7 linked regions of the Homo sapiens genome follow. The protein of the gene in region 1 purifies or fractionates together with the protein of each later gene. This does not show direct contact. Each region holds a gene or a part of one and is shown on either strand. Other genes may lie near its edges. The genes, in order: ELFN2, RAB11FIP4, TBC1D1, TBC1D4, CTDSPL2, SLC31A1 and SIGLECL1.

What was found.
Region 2: the proteins of ELFN2 (region 1) and RAB11FIP4 purify together in Homo sapiens (affinity purification with mass spectrometry; one large-scale study listed by BioGRID and IntAct). This does not show direct contact.
Region 3: the proteins of ELFN2 (region 1) and TBC1D1 purify together in Homo sapiens (affinity purification with mass spectrometry; one large-scale study listed by BioGRID and IntAct). This does not show direct contact.
Region 4: the proteins of ELFN2 (region 1) and TBC1D4 purify together in Homo sapiens (affinity purification with mass spectrometry; one large-scale study listed by BioGRID and IntAct). This does not show direct contact.
Region 5: the proteins of ELFN2 (region 1) and CTDSPL2 purify together in Homo sapiens (affinity purification with mass spectrometry; one large-scale study listed by BioGRID and IntAct). This does not show direct contact.
Region 6: the proteins of ELFN2 (region 1) and SLC31A1 purify together in Homo sapiens (co-immunoprecipitation; one large-scale study listed by IntAct). This does not show direct contact.
Region 7: the proteins of ELFN2 (region 1) and SIGLECL1 purify together in Homo sapiens (co-immunoprecipitation; one large-scale study listed by IntAct). This does not show direct contact.

Annotation. Positions count from the first base shown.
Region 1 is NC_000022.11:37,371,980-37,375,479, reverse strand, and holds part of ELFN2 (protein phosphatase 1 regulatory subunit 29 precursor), read left to right. Parts: coding exon 1-2,408; 3' UTR 2,409-3,500. UniProt on the Homo sapiens protein: Inhibits phosphatase activity of protein phosphatase 1 (PP1) complexes.
Region 2 is NC_000017.11:31,394,675-31,398,174, forward strand, and holds part of RAB11FIP4 (rab11 family-interacting protein 4), read left to right. Parts: intron 1-3,500. UniProt on the Homo sapiens protein: Acts as a regulator of endocytic traffic by participating in membrane delivery. Required for the abscission step in cytokinesis, possibly by acting as an 'address tag' delivering recycling endosome membranes to the cleavage furrow during late cytokinesis.
Region 3 is NC_000004.12:38,135,584-38,139,083, reverse strand, and holds part of TBC1D1 (TBC1 domain family member 1), read right to left. Parts: intron 1,950-3,500; coding exon 1,749-1,949; 3' UTR 1-1,748. UniProt on the Homo sapiens protein: May act as a GTPase-activating protein for Rab family protein(s). May play a role in the cell cycle and differentiation of various tissues.
Region 4 is NC_000013.11:75,283,170-75,286,669, reverse strand, and holds the end of TBC1D4 (TBC1 domain family member 4), read left to right. Parts: 3' UTR 1-3,167; downstream 3,168-3,500.
Region 5 is NC_000015.10:44,518,129-44,521,628, reverse strand, and holds part of CTDSPL2 (CTD small phosphatase-like protein 2), read right to left. Parts: intron 2,461-3,500; coding exon 2,334-2,460; intron 319-2,333; coding exon 223-318; intron 1-222. UniProt on the Homo sapiens protein: Probable phosphatase.
Region 6 is NC_000009.12:113,262,268-113,264,992, reverse strand, and holds the end of SLC31A1 (high affinity copper uptake protein 1), read right to left. Parts: 3' UTR 501-2,725; downstream 1-500.
Region 7 is NC_000019.10:51,261,080-51,264,579, reverse strand, and holds part of SIGLECL1 (SIGLEC family-like protein 1), read right to left. Parts: intron 698-3,500; 5' UTR 508-697; coding exon 486-507; exon of another isoform or gene 403-485; intron 1-402.

The sequences.
Region 1 (3,500 bases):
CCGTGCGTGCCGACTGCTGGCTCATTGAGGGCGACAAGGGCTACGTGTGGCTGGCCATCTGCAGCCAGAACCAGCCGCCCTACGAGACCATCCCGCAGCACATCAATAGCACCGTGCACGACCTGCGGCTCAACGAGAACAAGCTCAAAGCCGTGCTCTACTCCTCGCTCAACCGCTTTGGGAACCTCACCGACCTCAACCTCACCAAGAACGAGATCTCCTACATCGAGGACGGTGCCTTCCTGGGCCAGTCGAGCCTGCAGGTCCTGCAGCTGGGCTACAACAAGCTCAGCAACCTGACGGAGGGCATGCTGCGAGGCATGAGCCGCCTGCAGTTCCTCTTTGTCCAGCACAACCTCATCGAGGTGGTGACGCCCACCGCCTTCTCCGAGTGCCCGAGCCTCATCAGCATCGACCTGTCCTCCAACCGCCTCAGCCGCCTGGACGGTGCCACCTTTGCCAGCCTCGCCAGCCTGATGGTGTGTGAGCTGGCCGGCAACCCCTTCAACTGTGAGTGCGACCTCTTCGGCTTCCTGGCCTGGCTGGTGGTCTTCAACAACGTCACCAAGAACTACGACCGCCTGCAGTGTGAGTCGCCGCGGGAGTTTGCCGGCTACCCGCTGCTGGTGCCCCGGCCCTACCACAGCCTCAACGCCATCACCGTACTCCAGGCCAAGTGTCGGAATGGCTCGCTGCCCGCCCGGCCCGTGAGCCACCCCACGCCCTACTCCACCGACGCCCAGAGGGAGCCAGACGAGAACTCGGGCTTCAACCCCGACGAGATCCTTTCGGTGGAGCCGCCGGCCTCGTCCACCACGGATGCGTCGGCAGGGCCAGCCATCAAGCTGCACCACGTCACGTTCACCTCGGCCACCCTGGTGGTCATCATCCCACACCCCTACAGCAAGATGTACATCCTCGTGCAGTACAACAACAGCTACTTCTCCGACGTCATGACCCTCAAGAACAAGAAGGAGATCGTGACGCTGGACAAACTGCGGGCGCACACTGAGTACACCTTCTGCGTGACCTCGCTGCGCAACAGCCGCCGCTTCAACCACACCTGCCTGACCTTCACCACGCGGGACCCCGTCCCCGGAGACTTGGCGCCCAGCACCTCCACCACCACCCACTACATCATGACCATCCTGGGCTGCCTCTTTGGCATGGTTATCGTGCTGGGAGCCGTGTACTACTGCCTGCGCAAGCGGCGCATGCAGGAGGAGAAGCAGAAGTCTGTCAACGTCAAGAAGACCATCCTGGAGATGCGCTACGGGGCTGATGTGGATGCCGGCTCCATTGTGCACGCCGCCCAGAAGCTGGGCGAGCCTCCCGTGCTGCCCGTATCTCGCATGGCCTCCATCCCCTCCATGATCGGGGAGAAGCTGCCCACCGCCAAGGGGTTGGAGGCCGGGCTGGACACACCCAAGGTAGCCACCAAAGGCAACTATATCGAGGTGCGCACAGGCGCCGGCGGGGACGGTCTGGCTCGGCCCGAGGATGACCTCCCGGACCTCGAGAACGGCCAGGGCTCGGCTGCAGAGATCTCCACCATTGCCAAGGAGGTGGACAAGGTCAACCAGATCATTAACAACTGCATCGATGCTCTCAAGCTGGACTCGGCCTCTTTTCTGGGAGGCGGCAGCAGCAGTGGGGACCCCGAGCTGGCCTTCGAGTGCCAGTCCCTCCCTGCAGCTGCTGCCGCCTCCTCAGCCACTGGCCCCGGGGCCCTGGAGCGGCCCAGCTTCCTTTCGCCTCCCTACAAGGAGAGCTCCCACCACCCACTACAGCGCCAGCTGAGCGCCGACGCGGCCGTGACCCGCAAGACCTGCAGCGTGTCGTCCAGTGGTTCCATCAAGAGCGCCAAGGTCTTTAGCCTGGACGTGCCCGACCATCCGGCCGCCACAGGGCTGGCTAAGGGCGACTCCAAGTACATCGAGAAGGGCAGCCCCCTCAACAGCCCGCTGGACCGGCTCCCGCTGGTGCCGGCGGGCAGCGGCGGGGGCAGCGGCGGGGGCGGGGGCATCCACCACCTGGAGGTGAAGCCGGCCTACCACTGCAGCGAGCACCGGCACAGCTTTCCCGCCCTGTACTACGAGGAGGGTGCCGACAGCCTGAGCCAGCGCGTGTCCTTCCTCAAGCCGCTGACCCGCTCCAAGCGTGACTCCACCTACTCGCAGCTCTCCCCCAGACACTACTACTCAGGGTACTCCTCCAGCCCCGAGTACTCATCCGAGAGCACGCACAAGATCTGGGAGCGCTTCCGGCCCTACAAGAAGCACCACCGGGAGGAGGTGTACATGGCCGCCGGTCACGCCCTGCGCAAGAAGGTCCAGTTCGCCAAGGACGAGGATCTGCATGACATCCTTGATTACTGGAAGGGGGTCTCCGCCCAGCAGAAGCTGTGACCCCCCCCTTCCTCCCTGGTGAGGTCGGAGCCAGAGGGCTGGGGGCCTTTTGGGGGAAGGGTCCAGGCGGCCAGGGCGGGGAGCAGACTCGGGGGCCAAGGCCCAGGAGAGGACGCACATGCAGACCCGCACGCACGCACGCACACACACACCTGACCACCACCCGACTGTGAACAAACCAACATCCGACAATAACGGACAGGAAAACAGAGACACATTTTCCTTAAAGTTTACAAACTGATACCGAAACCAGTCGTCTTTACTGTGCTGCCCAGGGACTCTGCTGGGGTGTGCAGGGCCGGGGGGCTGGCGGGGGGAGGAAGGAAGCCAAGAGAGGGTGTGGGGTCTGGGGGGTCTGGGGCTAGAAACAGGTGTGGGGGTCAAGAAAGCTGGAGTAGAGAGGGACTGAAGCCCCTCTAGGGCAGGGAGAGGGTCCCTTCCCAAGCTGGGAGTCAAGTCACCTGCAGATTTAGCATTAGACATCGGGCAATGTCTCCTTCCACTTTAGAGAGGGGGGGAAACTGAGGCCCAGAGAAGGGAGTTGACAACCCCAGGGTCACACAGCAGCTTAGCCTCAAGTCCCCCAACTTCCCAGCCCAGTGCTGTCCCGGAACCCCCTGCAGCTCTCTTGTGGACCCCTGCCCGCCCTGTGCCCACCCCACATCCCTTTCCGAAGCTGTGGTCCCTTGGGGCTGAGGGACTTGGGAATCAGGCAGGTGCTTTTTCTTCCTAGAAAGCCACATGGCAGTGCCCCCAGAGTGTGCAGCTGTGATTCAGAATCCTGGGGGGCTTTTGACCCCTATGCCGGCACCCGGGAGAAGGGAGAGGGTCCTGTTGACGGGAAAGGAGCCGAGGCAGGGCGACATTCCACCAGCCCACTTCAAGTGTCTTCCACGTGGCCTGGGAAGAGTGGGGCGTGTGGCGGGCAGGCCAGCTCCCAGGACGTCTCAGGTGCAGGCTCCCGGCCCCAGCTTCTCTGGTCCTCCGAGACCCCTGCCCACCGCAGAAGGGCAGCGGTGCACTGTGATGCCTGGAGGGCTGCAGGGAGGAGCTGTCATGGGGGACTTCCTGCCTGTCCCCATGGCCTGTGTC
Region 2 (3,500 bases), on another chromosome or scaffold:
CTACCTCTATCACTCTCAGCTGTGCTGCTGCCTGCGGGCTGGAGAAGCAGTGCTTGGTGTGTCTGAATCCACAAGGCTGGTTAAACATTGCAGGGCAGGACCATGGACAGGGCCCCGAGGCACTTGTAGGGGTGGTTTTCGGCTTATGCTGTATTGACCGAGACCCGTGGAAATATATTTTGCATCTCTACTCACTACCCATCTTATCCCCTGATGCATTAAAAAATCGGAGTGTTGTTTTCCAGCGGTGGGGTGGCGGGGGGCGGGGGGGGGGGGCTCCCTTACGAAATGCAGTGTACTCTGACTGTTTCTATTTTATTTGTTTTAAAATCAGGCAGTGACATTGATTTCCCAGCCACTTGTGCTCTGGGATGGATAATGATCATTCATTAGATATGTAGTTCAGTGAACTTAGAGCTGATTGTCCACAGTTTACCACCTACCCCCAGAATACCAGGGATACCAGGATCAAATGCTTTGCAAAAACCAAAATATACTAGGTCATAAAGTATGAAATAAATATCCATGAGGCCATAATGAAATATATATATGTATAAATTATTGAACAGATGATAATAAATAAATAGGAAAATCTCTCGTATAGAAGAAATCTGAATAACGTATGTTGATAATTGCCCCATTGAGGAAGTGAAGCATAACGTCCCACCGTGTAAGCATGAGATGTGCGTAGTGGCTTCCTTATAAAGGGTAGAGTTTGGAAAGTGGGGGGAACAGCAACTGTATAGTGGAGAAACCCAACAAACACTGTCTCAGAAGGTGATCAAGGACAACATCGATAGTGACAGATTGTGATGATGGCATACACCCTTGGTGTGATGTGGTGAGAATAGAACTTTTCCTCTGTGGTCTTCCTCCCAAACCAGTAATCCCAGTCTAGTCCTGAGAAAAATGCCAGACAAATCCCATCCGAGAGGCATTCTACAAAATGCCTGATTAGGACCTCTCAAAATTGTCAAGGTCATCCAAAACAAGGAAATTTTGAGACACTGTCAGAGCCAAGTGGAGACTAAGGAGGCAGCTGACTAAATGCAGTGTGGTGTCCTGGATGGGACCCTAGAATCAAGAAGAGGACATTAGGTAAAAACTAAGGAAGTCAGGATCAAGTATGAATGTTACTTAATAATGTTATTTATGGATTAGGTTAGTCCCTGATAGTTCCCTACTTTGTTGACCTAGGTATCACAGCAGAAAAGAGGAGACAATGGGCCGGGCGTGGTGGCTCATGCCGGTAATCCTAACACTTTGGGAGGCTGAGGTGGGAGGATCACTGGAGCTCAGGAGTTCCACACCAGCCTGGGTAACATGGTGAGACCCCCCATCTCTACAAAAAATACAAAAATTAGCCCGGTGTAGTGGCGTGCACCTGTAATCCCAGCTAGTTGGGAGACTGAGGCAGGAGAATCGCTTCAACCTGGGAGGCGGAGGTTGCAGTGAGCTGAGATTACATCGCTGCACTCTAGCCTGGGTGACAGAGTGAGACCCTGCCACAAAAAAAAAAAAAAGAAAAGAAAAGAAAAGAAAAGAAAGAAATGCAGATTTTTGAGGGATGGGGGCACACCACTGCCCTGATCCTGAAAGTCTACAATGCCAGGGAGCAGGACTCTGATAAGTATGTAACATGATGGCTCAACATCCTGACCCTGTGTTGCCTTCTGATATATTGCATTGTCTCCCTAACCTCTTTAGGCCTCTATTTACTCATCCATCAAATGGGGCTGATCAGAGTCCCCATTCTATAGGGTTATTGTGGGGTTTGAGTGAGTTAATACATACAAAGGGCTTAGTCCAGTATCTGCACAGAGTAGGCATAATATCAGAATTGCTGGTGCTCTCCTTGTCATTATTATTATTTTCTAAACACTTGCAAGCATTTTTGAGAGGCTGTTCTAGGCTGGAGATTTGCTAGGAATTGAGGTCAAGATCTGGCACCGGCCTCTGTGTGCTCAACTCACCCTCCTTAACCAGCTGTGGTGTTCCTGCCCCTCTTACGTCCCCTCGGCAGTCAGAATGGTAGACATTGAAAGCAGCCAGAGATGTCCTGGACCACACTTCCCTGTGACATGGTCCTCTTCCCTTTCCAGTTTGAAGACCGTCCTTCTTGCTAGAAAAATAGAAATAAGAATCACCAAGTAGGCCTCTCCCATGCATTAACACAGCACCATCTCCTCTGGACAGTGGGCCTGTCCTGCCTGCTTGGAAATGAAATGATGGTCCCCACTGGGCTCCCTGAGTCCTCAGGTCCCCTCTGAGCTAATGCCTGCTATGGGGGAATTGCTAGTGCCACTTGGGTTAAGCCTGGGTCTTTGAAATGGCAAAGGGGTTGGGGTGCTAGGATGGGCTGAGACCGGCCAGGAGCCAGCCCTGGGGCTGGGATCGATGTCTTTTGAGATACGTGGCTTCCAGGAACAGGAGCACCTGGAACTAAAGCTCCTCTGCTCAGGAGTAGCAATTGGATAACAGGGAAGAAACAACTGTATCCCCACAGCTGTGGCTGGAGGAAGGGGTGAAGGGGAAGGTAGGGCCAGATCAGTGGTTCCCTGTAGGCAGTGAGACCTAGGCAGCCAAGAGTGGATGTGTATGAGAGAACAGGGGATGGGGAGCAGGATTGGAGGCAGGAGGCCTCCTCGGGACTGTGGCACATGGTAAGAGAGGAAGAGCATCCTAACTTGGGCAGTGGCGGGGGGTGCAGAATTGACAGGGGCCTGGAAGGCCGGCAAAGTCCCAACGAGCTACTCCCAAAAGGTGATAGTTAAAGGTGCTCTTTTGAGACCAGGCAACCTCTATGTGCCCCACCCTAATGAGGCTACCATGCAGAGTGACAAGGCTGGCACATCAGAAGGAAGGCCCAGGTGCCCTGAGCCTGGCAGAAAAGGTGGGAGTGCCTGGGACCTGAGGTGGAAGCAGGACAAGAGTGAGCCCAGAGAGATGTTCTCTTTCCTATGCTTCTGGGAAACTGTGCTCCTGAGGTTGGAGGTCATCATGGAAGTGGGGCCAGGGCTGGGGATCCCTTGGGGCCTGGGGATGGGCATGTGGCACCACACTCTGCATTGAGGCGGGAGGACGAGTCCTAGCTGGGGCACCCTCTGGCCTCTTGTGCCCACCAGTTTGGCTGTGCTGGGAGGAGGCCAGATGCAGAAAGTCTGCTGGGACTCATCCATCTTATCAGACACGCCCCTGCCTTTTTTTTTTTTTTTAATTGAAACAGGCTCTCGCTTTGTAGCTCAGGCTGGAGTTCAGGGGTGCATCATGGCTCACTGCAGCCTCGAGCTCTTGGGCTCAAACCGTCCTCCTGCCCCAGCCTCCCAAGTAGCTGGCACTGCAAGTATATGCCACCATGCTCAGCTAATTTTTTGTCAGACACTTTTTTTTTTTGAGACGGAGTCTCACTCTGTCACCCAGGCTGGAGTGCAGTGGCTCGTTGCAACCTCCAACTCCGGGGTTCAAGCGATTCTCTCACCTCAGCCTCCCGAGTAGCTGGG
Region 3 (3,500 bases), on another chromosome or scaffold:
AAAATCCAACAGTAAACATTCAAATAGTAAGATCTGATGCAGAACAAAGTCCTCAAATGTTAACTCCTATAAGTTACATCTAGCGGAACCACGAGGGATAAAGGCTGAACTCATCATCTTGGTTTATGATGGAAACCGCTATCCTCTGACCCAGGGAACAGGAGGAAGTCTCGAATGCCAGCCACCTGTTTAGGCACTGGTGGCAGCACTGTGGTCTCCTCGTGAAATGGCCGGGGAGACTCACAGTGAGTCTAAGTATGGCAATCTCTCCTTTTACCCCAGGATTAAGAGATGCCCCCCGCAACTGAGAGAATCAAAAGAAACTCCTATGGAATAGAAGACGTGGTTACAGTGATAAAGATCAGAAATGATTGTGTTGTCAAGGAAGTGACCTGTGACTGCACAGAACCCCATCTTTGTGAGAAAGCAACCCACTCTTAAGTGCACATCAGAGAGGCTTTACACAGTGACTGGCTGCAAGCAGGACAACCGTGAGCAGCATTTTGCTTGTTGAAGGCACAGGTCCTCGTCATCCTGAGAGAGGAGAGTCACTGTGTGCGACCTCTGAAAAACTGTCAGCTGTCATAAATCTGACTGCAGTTTCAGCCTGATCTTTTTTTTTTGAAAGTCCCAGACTCTTGGGGCACCCCTGAATATCTTGATGTGCCTACTCCTTCTGCAAGAAGTCAGATTTCCAAGGGATGGAGACTCAAAGGAACATGATTGCATTACATCACACAACAGGCAAAAATAAATACATGACTCTATAGTATGGGTATGAAACTACCACAAAGAAATATCTCAGACCCCACAACTGCAGCTCACATGCTAGCAATACCTGGTAGGGTCTAAAAGGTGTCAGCTGTCCCATAAAGCATTTACCTACTATGACTTTGATCAACTGTACTTATGGGATAAGCAAAAATGTATGAAAACACTCTATTTTTTTTTTAAAGACAAACTTCCTTAAATACCAAAGAGAGAGATCCATTTCACTTGACAGTGATCAGGATATCCAAATTAAATAAATCATTTTATTTAATTTGATGATCTTCAAATTCAATAAAGTGATCTTAAACATTCAAATAGTAAAATCTGATGTAGAACAAAGTCCTCAAATGTTAACTCCTTTAAGTTACATCTAGTGGAACCACGAGGGATAAAGGCTGAACTCATCATCTTGGTTTATGATGGAAACCGCTATCCTCTGAGCCAGGGATCAATGACCCAAGATCACTGATCTTCCCAATGATCATCTTAGGTTTCCATAACAAGAATGGGCGAGAGCCAACTGCACCTTGCCAGGGACGCTGAGGGTGTAGTCGCCACACAAACCCTCTCGGAAGAACGATGGACCCACGCCTTTGCCTGAGGCATGATCTCGAGCTCTTCCAGCTTTTGAAATTCCACCGTATTGTGAATGCTCTTTACAAACACAGTGACACTCAAAAAGGAACCAACAAGAAAACATAAGTTGCATTTATTCACGTCCACGCCATCTAAAGCTACTGTGTACAGTAATCAGGACTGGAGAAGGGACGATTTAGTATCTAAAAACAACAAAAAAAACACTGGGACATGCCCCCTGAATTGCAAGTTGGAGTTCGTAAGAATCTACTTGCTGGCAAGCCGGTTTCCTCCCTGAGAAGCACACTTCCCGCTTCCTTCTCTCCTTCCAGCGTCTTCTGTCCCTCTCAGTTAAGGCCTGGACAGTGTGGGATGGTGTTGCAATCTCTCCTGCAGAGCTGTCAGTCGCCCGTGGGCTCGGGCTGCGTGCACTCAGGCTCCCGGTCGCTGGGCTCTGCGCTCCGCCGCCGCAGCTCCTCCACCGTCTGCAGCAGGGCCGACCGCTCCAGTTCTAAGGTAAGCATGGCCTGCTTCAGCTTGCTCTCACTGCTCAGGAGCTTCTCAATGGTGGCCTCAAGGCTTTGGATCCTACCATTTGCCACCTGGAGAATAAAAGAAGAAATGAGAATACAATTGCCAGTGCTAACACAGGTGGGATCCAGTGCCCACACGCTGTCCAGCCTTGGGAGCACTCTGGAGCCGAGTTTCAGCAGGGATGAGTCTACAGTTTATCATCAGTTCTGGCCACACAGGAAGGCAACTCGCACCCCTTGCAGGTCGGTGGCCAGGCCCTTAAAAGCACCCTGAGAGCCCCCAGCATTTTCTTCTCCTGCTATGGCTGCTGTGGAAGCCGATGCTGAGATGGTGGATCACAACACAGAGGGAACCCAAACCCCCAGGCACCACCACCAGAGGGACAGCTTGGATAGGGCCAAAGAATGCTTCAGCAACACAAAGCTGAAGTGGGCGTCAGTGACACAAAGACTTCCGTTGTGCCAAGCCTCGGAGACTTGTAAGTTTGTTACTGCAGCAGAGCCTGGCCTGTTTTGATGAGCACATATACTTAAACGCACAAATCGATTTCGGGCTGACAAAAACTCAAAACAGTTTCCTCCTGAAGGCCCACGTGGTAACAATCCTCTAATCTGAAATTCTTTACAAACACAATGATACTCAAAAAGAAACCAACAAGAAAACCTAAGTTGCATTTATTCACGTCCACGCCATCTAAAGCTACTGTGTAAAGTTAGTGATGTCTAGAGGAACAAGACATCACTACGTCAAGAAACACAGGCATTTACCCCGGAACACATATGGAGTCCTTAGAAAGGCCAAGTGTTCTGCTAAGAGGTTTATGTGCCTGGTCTCACTGACTGTTCACTACGAGCCATGGAGACAAGCAATATCCTCTCTTCCACCCTACAGAGGAGGAATGAGGATCTCACTCAGTCTACATCCTCAGCACCTAGCACATAATTAATGCTAGTTAAATAGAACTTCCAGGTGTATCTTTCTAGCAACTGTCCCTCGTCTCTCTAATTTGCTCTGGCAGGCTTGCTTCCCAGGTGACAAGTGTGTTAGCTCTAGTGACATTAAAGGGTTCCCTAAGAAAACTGCAGAAACTCCAACATGTATGCTGATGTCCCTGAGGCCTTTCTGACCTGTTCCCCAGCTCACAGCTGCATCCTGGAGTGCTCTGTGACTTGGTCTATCTCACTAATCCAGTCCAGATTTGCCATGCTCCATTTTAGGTGGGAAAAATGGTATATATATACACATATATACACACACACACACACACACACACACACATATACACACACACGTATATATACACACACACATATATACACACACACACACATATATATACACACACACATATATATATATTTTTCATTTTTCAAACAAAGAAAATACTTTTTTGAATGTGACAACACTTGTGCCAGAAAATTCATGACTCGAAGTCTAGCTCTGGCTGGGCCACTAGAACACCCAAAATATGAAAAAGGGACCAAGAGCCTTAGTTTGTCAGCCTACTGGGCAAGGGGTGGTCCCACTTGGGGTATCTCTCTAAGCTGTACTCTCTGATCCTCAAAATCCACCCATCGTCAGGGCCTGGCTCAGGGCCTACCCTCATCACTTTGAAGCCC
Region 4 (3,500 bases), on another chromosome or scaffold:
CGCCTAGTCACAGCAGGTGGACCTCGTGCTCATCAGAGCATGCCAATCCTAAGCCATTGGACATATGTAGACTGGTTTTTGTTGTTGCTATGTACATATAAATATATATATAAAATGAACATAGTTCATGCTTTCAGATAAAATGAGTAGATGTATATTTAGATTAATTTTTTTAGTCAGAACTTCATGAAATCCACACCAAAGGAAAGGTAAACTGAAATTTCCCTTGGACATATGTGAAATCTTTTTGTCTTTATAGTGAAACAAAGCCAGAGCATCTTTGTATATTGCAATATACTTGAAAAAAATGAATGTATTTTTTTCTCCAAAGAACAGCATGTTTCACTCAATGGTGAAAAGGTGGAAACATTTATGTAACTTTATGTGTATCTGTCTTGATATCTACTGACATTGTCTATATGAGGAAAATGATTACTGGTCATGCTCCTGTGAGTTTTTTGGGAAGGTAGGGTCATTTCTCCCTGCCTGCTTTGTGCCAACTAGCATGTTGCATCTACATGCATTATGAGTCTGGTTAGGCATTACTTTAAACATACATAAAGAGACAGTAGGACATTGTGGCTGAGTCTACCCAGCTCAAGGTAAAGGAGAATGTTGCTAATTTTTTAGCAAACTAGACCAGCATTATTACTCAAACTAAAAATATCACACCTGAAAAATTTAATTTAGGACCTAAAATGTCTAGATTAGCTTTCTGCTTTTTTTATTTGAATAACTCATTCAGTTGTGAATGAATTCCTCTTTATTTGGTGCCACAGTCACCAAATGACAAGGATTTGCCACTTTCCCACCAAATTGTGAGTGCTTGTAATTTAGGTCTCTCTACCTTAAATTCAGTATAAGGAAACGTAATTATGATTGATTTTTTCCAAAGATGACAAGCTGTGTTGAAATACATTTTTTCTTTTGACCAATTGACAGAATCTAATAAGCTTTAATAATCTTCCCCTTTTATGTGAAAAGTTTTGAGAACTGTGAAATGTTTAGGAACAAACTGTTGAAATCCATTGGAAGGGAAAAAAGAAAGTGGTACCAGTGTTACCAGCTCAACTAAAACCTGCAATTCTGCATTTCAACTCTTCACTTCCTCAGCCTACAAATAGCTCATTAGATGACATTCACGCATGCTGGGTATAGGCAAGGAAAGTAATTTTCAAAGTACATTTGCAGTTCTCTTTTTCAGAGATGATTCTATGATAGTGCCTCTGAAAGTTGATGCAGCATTTTTGCCTTTCCAAAAAGTATTTATCCTCACTGCTTTTTGCAGTACTTGTATTTTCACAGATGGATTATCTGGGGTAATTTTCTTCAAAGGGAGTTTGTTATACACAGTGAAAATGTATTATAGAGTAGAATAGTAAAGCTCTAGGGGTTTCAGAAAGCTTTGATGAACAGATGACAAACATCTGAAACCCCCTCCGCACTGTTACCCAGTGTGTATATAATGACTTGTTATAGCTCAGTGTGCCCTTGAATCCATACAGTTTCTTAAAAGACAATAAAATCTTATTAATAAAGTTAATGTAACTTCTAAGTTCTAGAAAATGCTGATTCTGTCTGCCCCATTCAATTGGGGGCTACTAATTGATTTGTTGCTTGGATTTCCTGAGAATTTCTCTATTTGTAGGAGGGGTTTTTTCTTTTTACGGTCTGTTGATGACAATTACTTTATGGGTGTGATGCACCGATGGTAGCCAAGGAATCTGTTGGGGAAGTTCGGAAAGAAACCTTTTCTTTCTTTTATTCAGTTTAAAGTAAACTTTATCCTGGATGTTTAGAATCAACATTAAGAGTTATATTATGGTGTTCAGAGATTAAGCTGACTTGGATACAATATTTTCTTTTGAAAATGAATTTTCTTTTTCATTTGTGATTTTTAAAAAATGTTGCACCAGTTATGCTTCATGCATCGTTACATCTTCATCAGGTTAATGTAATGTCTAGTTCCTTTGCAATAAATATATTGCTGCAGCTTTCTTGACGTATACTGTTACTTTTCGGGAGAGAAGCAGCTCTTGGTTAGAGTCTTTTACTGCAGGGGTCCCTGGGTACCTGTCTGTGGCCTGTTATGAACCAGGCTGCACAGCAGTGGTGGGCATGCGAGCAAGCATGACTGCCTGAGCTCTGACTCCTGTCAGATCAGCCACGGCATTAGATTCTCATAGGAGCGCAAACCCTATTGTGAACTGTGCATGCAGGAGATCTATGTTTTGTGTTCCTTAAGAGAATCGAATGCCTGATGATCTGTCACTGTCTCCCATCATCCCCAGATGGGATCGTCTAGTTGCAGGAAAACAGTCAGGGTTCCCACTAATTCTACATTATGGTGAGTATATAATAATAATATGGTGAGGATATAATAATAATAATAGAAATAAAGTGCACAATAAATGTGCTTGAATCATTGAATCATCCTGAAACCATCCCCTGCCACCAGTCTGTGGAAAGATTGTCTTCCATGAAACCAGTCCCTGGTGTCAAGAAGGTTGAAGACCGCTGCTTTACAAGATCTGCATGGTGAAACCCCATCTCTAGGGAAAATACAAAAATTAGCCAGGCGTGGTGGTGTGCATCTGTAATCTCAGCTACTCAGGAGAGTAGGAGAGGCATATATTGCTACTTATAGGAGGCTGGAGAATAGTTTGAACCTGGGAGGCGGAGCTTGCAGTGAGCTTGCAGTGAGCCATCATGCCACTGCACTCTAGCCTGGGCCACAGAGTGAGACTTTGACAAAAAAAAAGAAAAACAAACAACCAAACAAAAAAGATCTGCATGGTTTGGATTGTACCTACTTAAAATTGCTACACAAATAATTCTTCCTAATAGAGTCAGACAACAAAGATAATTTAGGAGACATTTATGTAAGTACATTGTTACCATTTTTCAACTTACTTTCTCAATGGAGACTTTTGAAAGAAAAATATAAGCAACCACATTGACAGATTTGCATTCTACCCTTTTATTTTCCAGGCCCCCTCATAGATAGCAAGGGAGAGAGAGCCACAAGAAAATACAAAATTTTCCAACTGGACGCAGATAATTAAGAATTAAGGACATTTACTGATGGATGTGATATGAATGTTTTTATATAAAATATGCATCTCTTGGAGTATTCTCATGTATATTTGTAATCCAATAAAAATACACTGTATCTTCTTGCTAACTTTAGGACTAACACTTTTAACTATTTTTTGCTTAATGTAGTAGTTAAGCATTTTGAGAAGGAGGCACTGTAGGCTTAATAGTACAGTCTCTTAATATCCATGTTGACTTTTACCCATTTTGTCACTATTTCACCAATTATTTTTTCACAGTACCAGATTAGGAGTAAGAAATCTACCATCTGATGGCATGAAGTATTTAGTCCTTCTACCATGATGTGACACTCTCATTATATTACTCATTAGCTGTGATATAATGAGAAAAGCACGGGATTTAGGGTGAGAAGTTTTATATCTGTGTCTTGGTTCCACCACTTT
Region 5 (3,500 bases), on another chromosome or scaffold:
TCACTATGTTGCCTAGTATGACCTCAAATTCCTAGGCTCAATCAATCCTCCTGCCTCAGACTCTAAAGTAGCTGGCACTACAGGCGCCTATGATGGCACCTGTGACCTGGCTCACAGTTGACTTTATAAGTCAGTACACACAAAGCAAAGACATTTAAAAATATTTATTTCAATATAGTTGAGCTAACAAAAACACAACAGAAAAAGATAAGCTACACTTACCAGTTCTACAAGCTTCTCCAGGAATGGAATCAATTTTAGGAGTTCATTGTCATTTTTATCCATAAACCAACTTTCTATAGGGATTCCATTAGAAAGCTAAAACAATAAATAAGTAATTAAATCCTCTTTTACTTATATTTTACCTAGTTTGGAAAAAGTTAAAAAATAAACAAAGATTTATTAAGTAAACACTGATCTAAAAGTTCCTTTGAAAAGTAATGTCACCAGACTTTTCTTTGACAACTCAATAGTGCAAGAGACAGAGGATAAGGAAATAAATTGAAGCCTATTGGTTTTTCAGTGTCATTTCTTCTCAGAGTATATAAAACTAAACAAGAAAGTTCCATTAAAATACATTTTATAAGGATCATTAATATAAATAAAATATTCCATTATTCCTTCAAGAAATAGTTACAATTAGTACAATGCTAGGTAGGCACTGTGAATGATGGGACACTGCCAATCTAAAGAGAATATAGAAAAGCCTATACTTTTTTTTCCCCTTAAATACAGTGACCATATCTCCCATTCATTATTCTATTCCCATCGAGTAGGATGATAACTTGAAATATAGTAGAAACTTAACAAATTAATGGTATTTCATTGAAGAGGAGCCTAAAAACAAGAATGCAAGCCATATTTATTTTATGGTGAATAATCTCTGGGATAAAATGTTTTAAAATTTAGGCTAAATGTTGTATATGAGATGGAGGATAATTGATATAATTTTAACTAGGAACCAAGATGAAATTCTTAAAAGACATTTTTAAATGTAAACAAATAAAAGTAAGGACCTAAATATAACTTAGTATCATATACAGCTTTTCACTTGTTTTCTTTTTATTATAGACATTTTGAAACACAGGACAAATCTAGTTTATACTCCAATCCACTTTGCATCATCCCTATTCTGGACTGGCTTATTGTGAAGCAAATCTAAGAAATCCTATCACATGGGGCTGGGTGTGGTAGCTCACAACTGTAATCCCAGCACTTTGGGAGGCTGAGACAGGTGGGATCACCTGAGGTCAGAAGTTCGAGACCAGCCTGGCCAACACAGCAAAACCCCGTCTCTACTAATAATACAAAAAAATTAGCACGGCATAGTGGCGCGCACCTGTAGTGCCAGCTACTAAGGAGGTGGAGGCAGGAGAATCACGAACCCGGGAGGTGGAGGCTGCAGTGAGCTGAGATCGTGCCACTGCACTCCAGCCTGGGCGACGAGCAAAACTCCGTCTCAAAAAAAAAAAAAGGAAAACAAAAAAAAGAAAAAAGAAATCATATCACATGGACATATTCATAATCTAAAATATACCTTGAAAGGATGACTCATCAGGCAGGCGCAGTGGCTCACACCTGTAATCCCACCACTTTGGGAGGCTGAGGCAGGCGATCACCTGAGGTCGGGAGTTCGAGACCAGCCTGACCAACATGGAGAAACCCCGTCTCTACTAAAAATACAAAATTAGCCAGGCGTGGTGGCAGACACCTGTAATCCCAGCTACTCGGGAGGTTGAGGCAGGAGAATCGCTTGAACCCAGGAGGCGGAGGTTGCAGTGAGCCAAGATCACGCCATTGCACTCCACTCCAGTTTGGGCAACAAGAGTGAAACTGCTTCTCAAAAAACAAAAACAAAAAAAAACAAAAAAACAAAAGGAAGGAAGGATGACTCATCTACATTTGTAGTTATACGTCAAAGAAATATTAACAAAGGGTACAAATATATTGACAAAATAGTCTAAGAAAATATTTCAGAACATTAAACCAAATAACCAGACCAGAAGAACATAAACTAACTATAGTACTCAAATATGTTTATGATTAAATTACTAATTACTGATTTAATAACTGATAAGAATGCTATTCAATGATGCTTATCTTATAGTTTTCTTACTCAGGTTTTTCTTCATTTATGCTGCATGTCATTTAAGTAAAAATTTTCCAAAAGGAATATACCACTTTGTCATTTCTAATTCTAAAAAAATGACACATTAAAGGGAAATTCCACCAGTGAAAATTCTCTTCTTCTTCTCCCATCATATTCTGTTTGGCAGCATGTGTCTTCATTGTATTTTTTCCAATCTGAGTTTGTTTATCAACTTTCTTCCTACCTGATATGCAAAGGCTTGTGGTGAGTTGTCAATTATTATAGTTTTTGAAAGATCTCTTCCAAGAATATTTAAGTCCTTTATATAGTTTCCTTGTACACAAACACAATGTTCACGGAAAAGCCGGTGCCTAAACATAAAAATAAAAACAAATTAAAAAAAAAAAACTTTCTAAAAAGTAGAACATATACACATATATATACACCATAGGCTTTATAGTTTAAGCCATATGATTTTCTCTCTTGAAGGAAATTCAAACACAAATATGGGTCTAAGCGTTGGGCTGCCATTTTACTATAAAAATTCTAAGCAATTACTGAAAGCTTACAACCAAATATTACTATGCCTTAAAGAACTTGAGTTTATCCCAAAATGTTATTATTAAATTATAAAGGGGGATTAAAAACTCTAAATTGTTTTTGTAATTTATTTACCCAAGAAAGCTCAGCTCAGATGCAGCATCTGGTTGTCAGCGAGGTCCTGCTTTTTAACCAATTTTCCAGATGGTTGACTGAGGAACAAGGAGGTCAAGTGACTTGCCCAAGGTCACACAGTAAGTCAGTGGTTAGCCCCGCATTGGAACCCAGGATCCTCCTGGCTCCCAGTCCTTGGCTCTAACCAGTGGACCACACAGCCTCCCTATCCCTGTACATGCCAGAATAGAAAATATAAGAAGGAATGTTTTTGTGTTGGCATTTGAAAAAATGCTTTTTAGATTTCCTTATTTTTTTTGAGAAAAGGTCCTAAGACCAAAACATTCCATCATTTCAACTTTTCCTAAACACCCCTCTTTTAGTATATGTGTATGATCATTTGAAAAAAGATTAAGTGAAATGAGGAATTCAGATTTAAGTATCAAGTATTATAAATGTAAACTGATATTTCACTCACATAGAAAAATACTACATCATTTTAGAAAGCTATTAAAGGTTTTACAATACTAAAGTGATTATTATAATCTCAATTTATACTCAAAATACTAGTCTCTGAACATTACTAATAATTGTTTCATATAATTTTTTTCTACCTTGAAGTACTCTATTCTGTATATATTAATAATTGGTAAGTTGTCTTCCTTGTGTCTTAATCACACTAACAATTTTACAAAATCTAGGACCTATTTGGACCTGTATTTTAAATTATGCAATTTCAAGAAACTGGTATTTTCTA
Region 6 (2,725 bases), on another chromosome or scaffold:
GAAGGTCACATGGATCTTCTGGCATGTACTAGGCATGTCATTTTAAGTCGAGTAGGGGGAGAGTGAGATGAAAACCTAAAAGGATCATACCACCTAAAATACGGACATCTTTTTTTTTTTTTTTTTTTGAGACGGAGTCTCGCTGTGTTGCCCAGGTGCAATCTTGGCTCACTGCAACCTCTGACTTCCGGGTTCACACCATTCTCCTGCCTCAGCCTCCCAAGTAGCTGGGACTACAGGCGCCCACCACCAGGCCTGGCTAATTTTTTAATATTTTTTTTAGTAGAGACGGGTTTCACCGTGTTAGCCAGGATGGTCTCGATCTCCTGACCTCATGATCCACCTGCCTCAGCCTCCCAAAGTGCTGGGATTACCAGGCGTGAGCCACCGCGCCCGGCCACAATATGGACATCTTAAAAACTGATGGTAATGGCCAGACTCTATGCAGACTATGAAAAGACTAGCTTATTGCATTATCACTCTGGGCAGAAAGACTTGCATAGAATCACAAAATCAAAATATTTATTTTGTTCTTTTTCATATGACACTGTTAAAACATTCCTACTACAGCAATACTGCTCTCCAGGAGCTTACAATCTAAAACAGTCAACATTAATTGTAGACCCAGTAATTAAGGCATTATATCAAATGCAGACTTTGTATCTTTTTTTTTTTTTTGAGACGGAGTTTTGCTCTTGTCGCCCAGGCTGGAGTGCAATGGCGCCATCTTGGCTCACTGCAACCTCCGCCTCCTGGGTTCAAGCGATTCTCCTGCCTCAGCCTCCCGAGTAGCTGGGATTACAGGCATGCACCACCACGCCCAGCTAATTTTTGTATTTTTAGTAGAGATGGGGTTTCACCACATTGGCCAGGCTGGTCTCAAACTCCTGACCTCAGGTGATCTGCACCCCCGCTTGGCCTCCCAAAGTGTGTGAGCCACTGTGCCCAGCCCAGAGTTTCTATCTTTTGATGTATCTTTTGAAGGAGCAGCTGGAGAGGGCAGGATCAAAATTAAATCACATGAAAGTGTACTCCCCTCCGCCTGCTCCTTATAAGGAACCCCTTATGACTAGAACCCAAGACCAGTACCCACAGCCTGAAAGGGAATTTCAGACAACCCTACCATAGAAGTAGTGAAGAAACCTTAATTTCTAATCTCCTAGTGGATACAGTGAGGATTCCATTTGTGGGCAATGGGGATGCTGGGAGTTCCTCCCTCACAGACTAGAGACGGCACCTAAGATTCTGTAACTCTGGGAAGGGTACCAGCCTTATAGAAATTCCAGTGGGTCAACTGCCTCTTGAAGCATGCTTAAAGTCTCTTAACAGGTTTATAAATGCCAATTTCTGGTTGGTATTATATCCACAGCATAGCACTGTCTACTGCATCAGGAGGGCTATGGAGACTTAATATACTAGACATGCGATTAAAAAAACTGAAAGAAAAGGGAAAGGACAACAGAGTAAGGGGGCCAAAGAAATGGTGATGCAGTCTTCTAATAGATGTGAATGGGGAAGGAAGAAAAGAGAAGTTTAGATCCAAAATGAACAAAGAAGTCAAGCATTAAATTCCAAATGAACAGGTATACAGAAATGAAAAGTTAATGAAATCATTGTATTATCACAATCCAAGAGCTCAAGATGGAATTTAAGCTTTTTCTCCTTCACTAGCTTCATCCTTTGGCAGCCAGTCTAAGAATCTCTGAAATTCAGGTTTTTCAGGAGATTATCTCTATCCTGAATACCTGAAGACCTAATCTAAACTGTTATTTCTTTCTGTGAATTTCAAAGTCATAGCATTTTGTCTTAACTGGCCTTGAATTTTCTTTTTTTCTGAGACAGGGTCTTGCTTTGTCACCCGGGCTGAGTGCAGTGGCGCAATCATGGCTTACTGCAGCCTCGACCTCCAGGGCTAAAGCAATCCTCCTGCCTCAGCCTCCCAAATAGCCAGGACTATAGGTATGCACCACCATGCCTGGCTAATTTTTGATTTTTTATAGAGATAGGATCTCACTATGTTGTCCAGGCTGGTCTCGAACTTCTGGACACAAGCCATCCTCCCACCTTGGCCTCCCAAAGTGTTGGGATTACAGGCATGAGCCATTGGGTCTAGCTGGCCTTACTGATTAGGTTTTGTTGCTGGGAGGGTATTCTATAGCAGCTCATGCTGAGATTTCTAGAGAGCACCAATGTCACTACTAACTATTGATTCCTATTTATTTCTCATGGTTTTATGACTCCTTGGCTTTAGACAACAGGCTGTATTATACCTTTGTGTTGGACTTCGTCAGTACCTGTCATTCACCCTGCTCATGTTAAGTATCATCATTACAAAGTGATGGAATGAGAGAAAAGCACAAAGCTCTAAATGTTGGTTCTTGGATTTTAACCTCAATCCAGTAGGCTCATAACCCTCTCTTGGTTCAAAGCCATACAAGTCCACATTCCTTGCTCTCCAATATTTAACTGGCACCCACAGAGAAAGTACAAACTTCAAAACCACAACACAGGCCAACAGGATAGCTGTGTTTTGTTTCCTCTGCCCTGAGGCACAACTGGATCTAGCACCAAGGAGGGCAGGATTTAACAGACCAGCACAAGACAAATCAATTTAAAGAGGTAGTTTGAACCAGGAATAAGACTGCAGTGTAGACTACAACTGAACAGAATACAAATCCAATGTGGTTCTTCACTGAGAACAGGGGTTTTGGCCACTTGTAATGTA
Region 7 (3,500 bases), on another chromosome or scaffold:
TTGAGGTTACTGGAAGAAAGGGGTAATTTTCCCCTAACCAGTAGCTCCTGATCTCGGTCTCTTCACCTGAGTCACTTGCGGGGCGCTGTTGAGGAATCTGCGGGGGACTCTCATGTACGGACCCCTCTATGGCTGTCCTCTGAATTGTCTTTTCCACCTGGCAAAGTGTGCCCACAGAAACACTGAAAAACTTAACTTCAGGGCTTCCAGTAATGTCTGAAACAGCTCCTAGTGCTCTCATGCCTTCATAGCACCTACACTCTCCATCCCTCTCCCTTGCCCAATTTGCTATTTGCTTCAGACACACCAGCCCTGTCAAAATCTGACACACAGAAGCTGTCTAATTCATGTTGATTATTTGGTACTTATGCCCATATGTCCTCTTTCTCCATGCCTCCATAGCCCATCCTCTGCCCTGCCAACACCCAGGCCCTGGAGTCTTGGCTTCCAAACACACCTCCAGTGCTGCTTCTCACCTTACTTACCCAGCTGTAGCAGTGGAAGCATCACTTCCAGCAGCAACAGTTCTCAGGAACAGCAGAAGCTCTTTACTACACTGGCTCTGACATCAGAACCATATGGTTCAGAAGGAGTGAGGTGATGCGTAACTGAAAGAGGATGTGGGGATGGGGAGAGCAGAAGTATCTTTAGCCAAGTCAGGGGCTTCTGTCTCTGGTCATCGTGAAGGCCTGTTCACCTGGAGAAGCAGGAATTATATGGGATGAGAGGCTCATGAGCACGTACGGACAGGGAGGCAACTAAGATTGTCTGTGAAGCCTCAGTGTCATGTCTGCTTTATTCTTTGTTTTATTTTTGTTTTTTGAGATGGAATCTTACTCTGTCGCCCAGGCTGGAGTGCAGTGGCTCGATCTCGGCTCACTGCAATCTCCATCTCCCATGTTCAAGCGACTCTTCTGCCTTAGCCTCCCGAGTAGCTGGAATTACAGGTATTCACCACCATGGCCAAATAATTTTTGTAGTTTTAGTAGAGATGAGGTTTCACCATGTTGGCCAGGCTGGTCTCAAACACCTGACCCGCCTTGGCCTCCCAAACAGCTGAGATTACAGGCATAAGCCACTATGCCCGGTTTGTTTTTGTTTTTGAGACAGGGTCTTTCTCTCTCTCTGTCACCCAGTCTGGATTGCAGTGGTGTGATCACTTAAGATAGCAAAGTGTTGACATTCTCTCAGGAAAAATATGATAATGTTTAGTTTGGTGAGAAGTGTAAAACAACATCTCCCTACCACAGTATAATTGTTTTGCCATAAAATTTGAAATGAATGGTGTAAGTAACATTGTATAGCATGGCACAATGTTCCCTTTTATATCCCATGTAGACATTTATTTAATAAATTTGTTCTCAGTAAATTTCTATTAAAAAAGAGACAGCACGAGACCCTGTCTCAAAAAAATGATCAATTCCAATTCCTACTGGATATCATGACTTAAAAATCCATAGTAATTCCAGCGTGGGCAACATGGTAAAACCCCGTTTCTACAAAAAATACAAAAATTATCTGGGTGTGGTGGTACGCACCTGTAGTCCCAGCTACTTGAAAGGTTAAGGTGGGAGGATCACCTGAGGTAGGGAGGTCAAGGCTGCAGTCAGCCGTGATCACGCCACTGCACTGTAGCTTTGGGCTACAGAGTAAGACTTTATCTCAAAATAAATAAGTAAATAAATAAAATACATACATACATACATAGTAATTCATAGAGTATGGTATTGACACAAGGATAAATAAAAATACCAATGGGACAGGCTATATGGTTAGAAAAATACCTATACATATGTGATCACTTGGTTTAGGATAAATATGGCACTGCATAGAAGTTAAAGGACTCTCTTTTGAATAAATTGTGTCAGAATAACTGGACAGCCATACAGCAAAAGGAAATAAGACCCCTACCTCATGTCATACATAAAAATAACTTCTAGGGACATTGGGAAAGTCCTTAGACTTTTTTTCTAGAACAGTGCTGTGTGAAGAAATATAATGTGACCTATAAATGTGGACTACATGTATAATTTTAAATTTTCTAGCAGCCACATTAAAAAGGAAGAAATGGGTAAAATTAATTTTAATGATGTTTCATTTAACCTAGTGAAAGAAACCTAGGTTATTCACTAGGTTATTCATATTGAACCTAACCCAATATTTCAACATGCAATCAACACAAAATTGTTAAGATTTGGTACATTCTTTATACACTCTTCAAAATCTTGTATATATTTTACACTTACAGCACACTTCAATTCAGACTAGCCATAATATAAGGGCTCAATAGCCATATGTAGTTAGTAGCTACCACATTGGTCAGTGGAATTCTTTAATACAACATAGGAGAGTATCTTGGTAAGTTTTAGGTAAGGAAATATTTCTTTAAAAGGGCCAAAAAGCACTAGCTATGAGGAAATATGGATAAAATGGACTGTATCAGAATTAATTTCTGCATCAAAAGATACCATTAAGGAGGACAAATGCAAGTTGCAGGGCTGGAGAACATACTTGCAACACATACAACGTGCTTGCATCCAGAACATAGCAAGGATAAAGGGGGTAATGAATGGTGTAGTACATGAGTGGAGTGTTTGGGGTGTTGTTAATGTTCTATTTCTTGACCTCAGTGGTGGTTACACTGGTCTGCTCCCTTTGTGATAATTTGAGTTGTATACTTACTATCTGTATTAATACTTCTCTGTATAAAATTGTACTTTGATTTAAAAGCTTGTTTGAAAATAAAGACAGAGAAACAAACAGAAGGGATACAAAAGAGAATAGAACGGTTGGGACAAGTAGAAATCATGTACCTAGATGTTAGATTTAAACTCCAATACATCAGTGATTTAACTAAATATAAATGGCTTAAATTATCCAGTTATGAATCTAAGATCATCATATTGGAAAAAAGAAGCAAAGCCAAACTCCATGCTGTTTACAAAAGACACAACCAAAGCATAAGTGTAAAGGACAGTTAAAAAACCAAATGGGCCGGGAGCGGTGGCTCATGCCTGTAATCCCAGCACTTTGGGAGGCCGAGACGGGCGGATCACGAGGTCAGGAGATCCAGACCATCCTGGCTAACACGGTGAAACCCCGTCTCTACTAAAAATACAAAAAATTAGCTGGGTGTGGTGGCGGGCCCCTGTAATCCCAGCTACTCAGGAGGCCGAGGCAGGAGAATGGCATGAACCTGGGAGGCAGAGCTTGCAGTGAGCCGAGATCATGCCACTGCACTCCAGCCTGGGCGACAGAGCAAGACTCCGTCTCAAAAAAAGAAAAAAAGAAAAAACCAAAGAATGAAAACATACACCAAGCAAATACCAACCAGAAAGCCAGGTAATGTAGACATACCTACATTAACATCCCATAAAGCAGACTTTAAGCAAAAGGCATTACCAAAGATAGAATGGCATATCTCCTAATGATAAGCTGACATTAACAGGAATAAAGTATATATTTAAAATTTGTGTTTGCCTACTAACATAGTCCAAAAA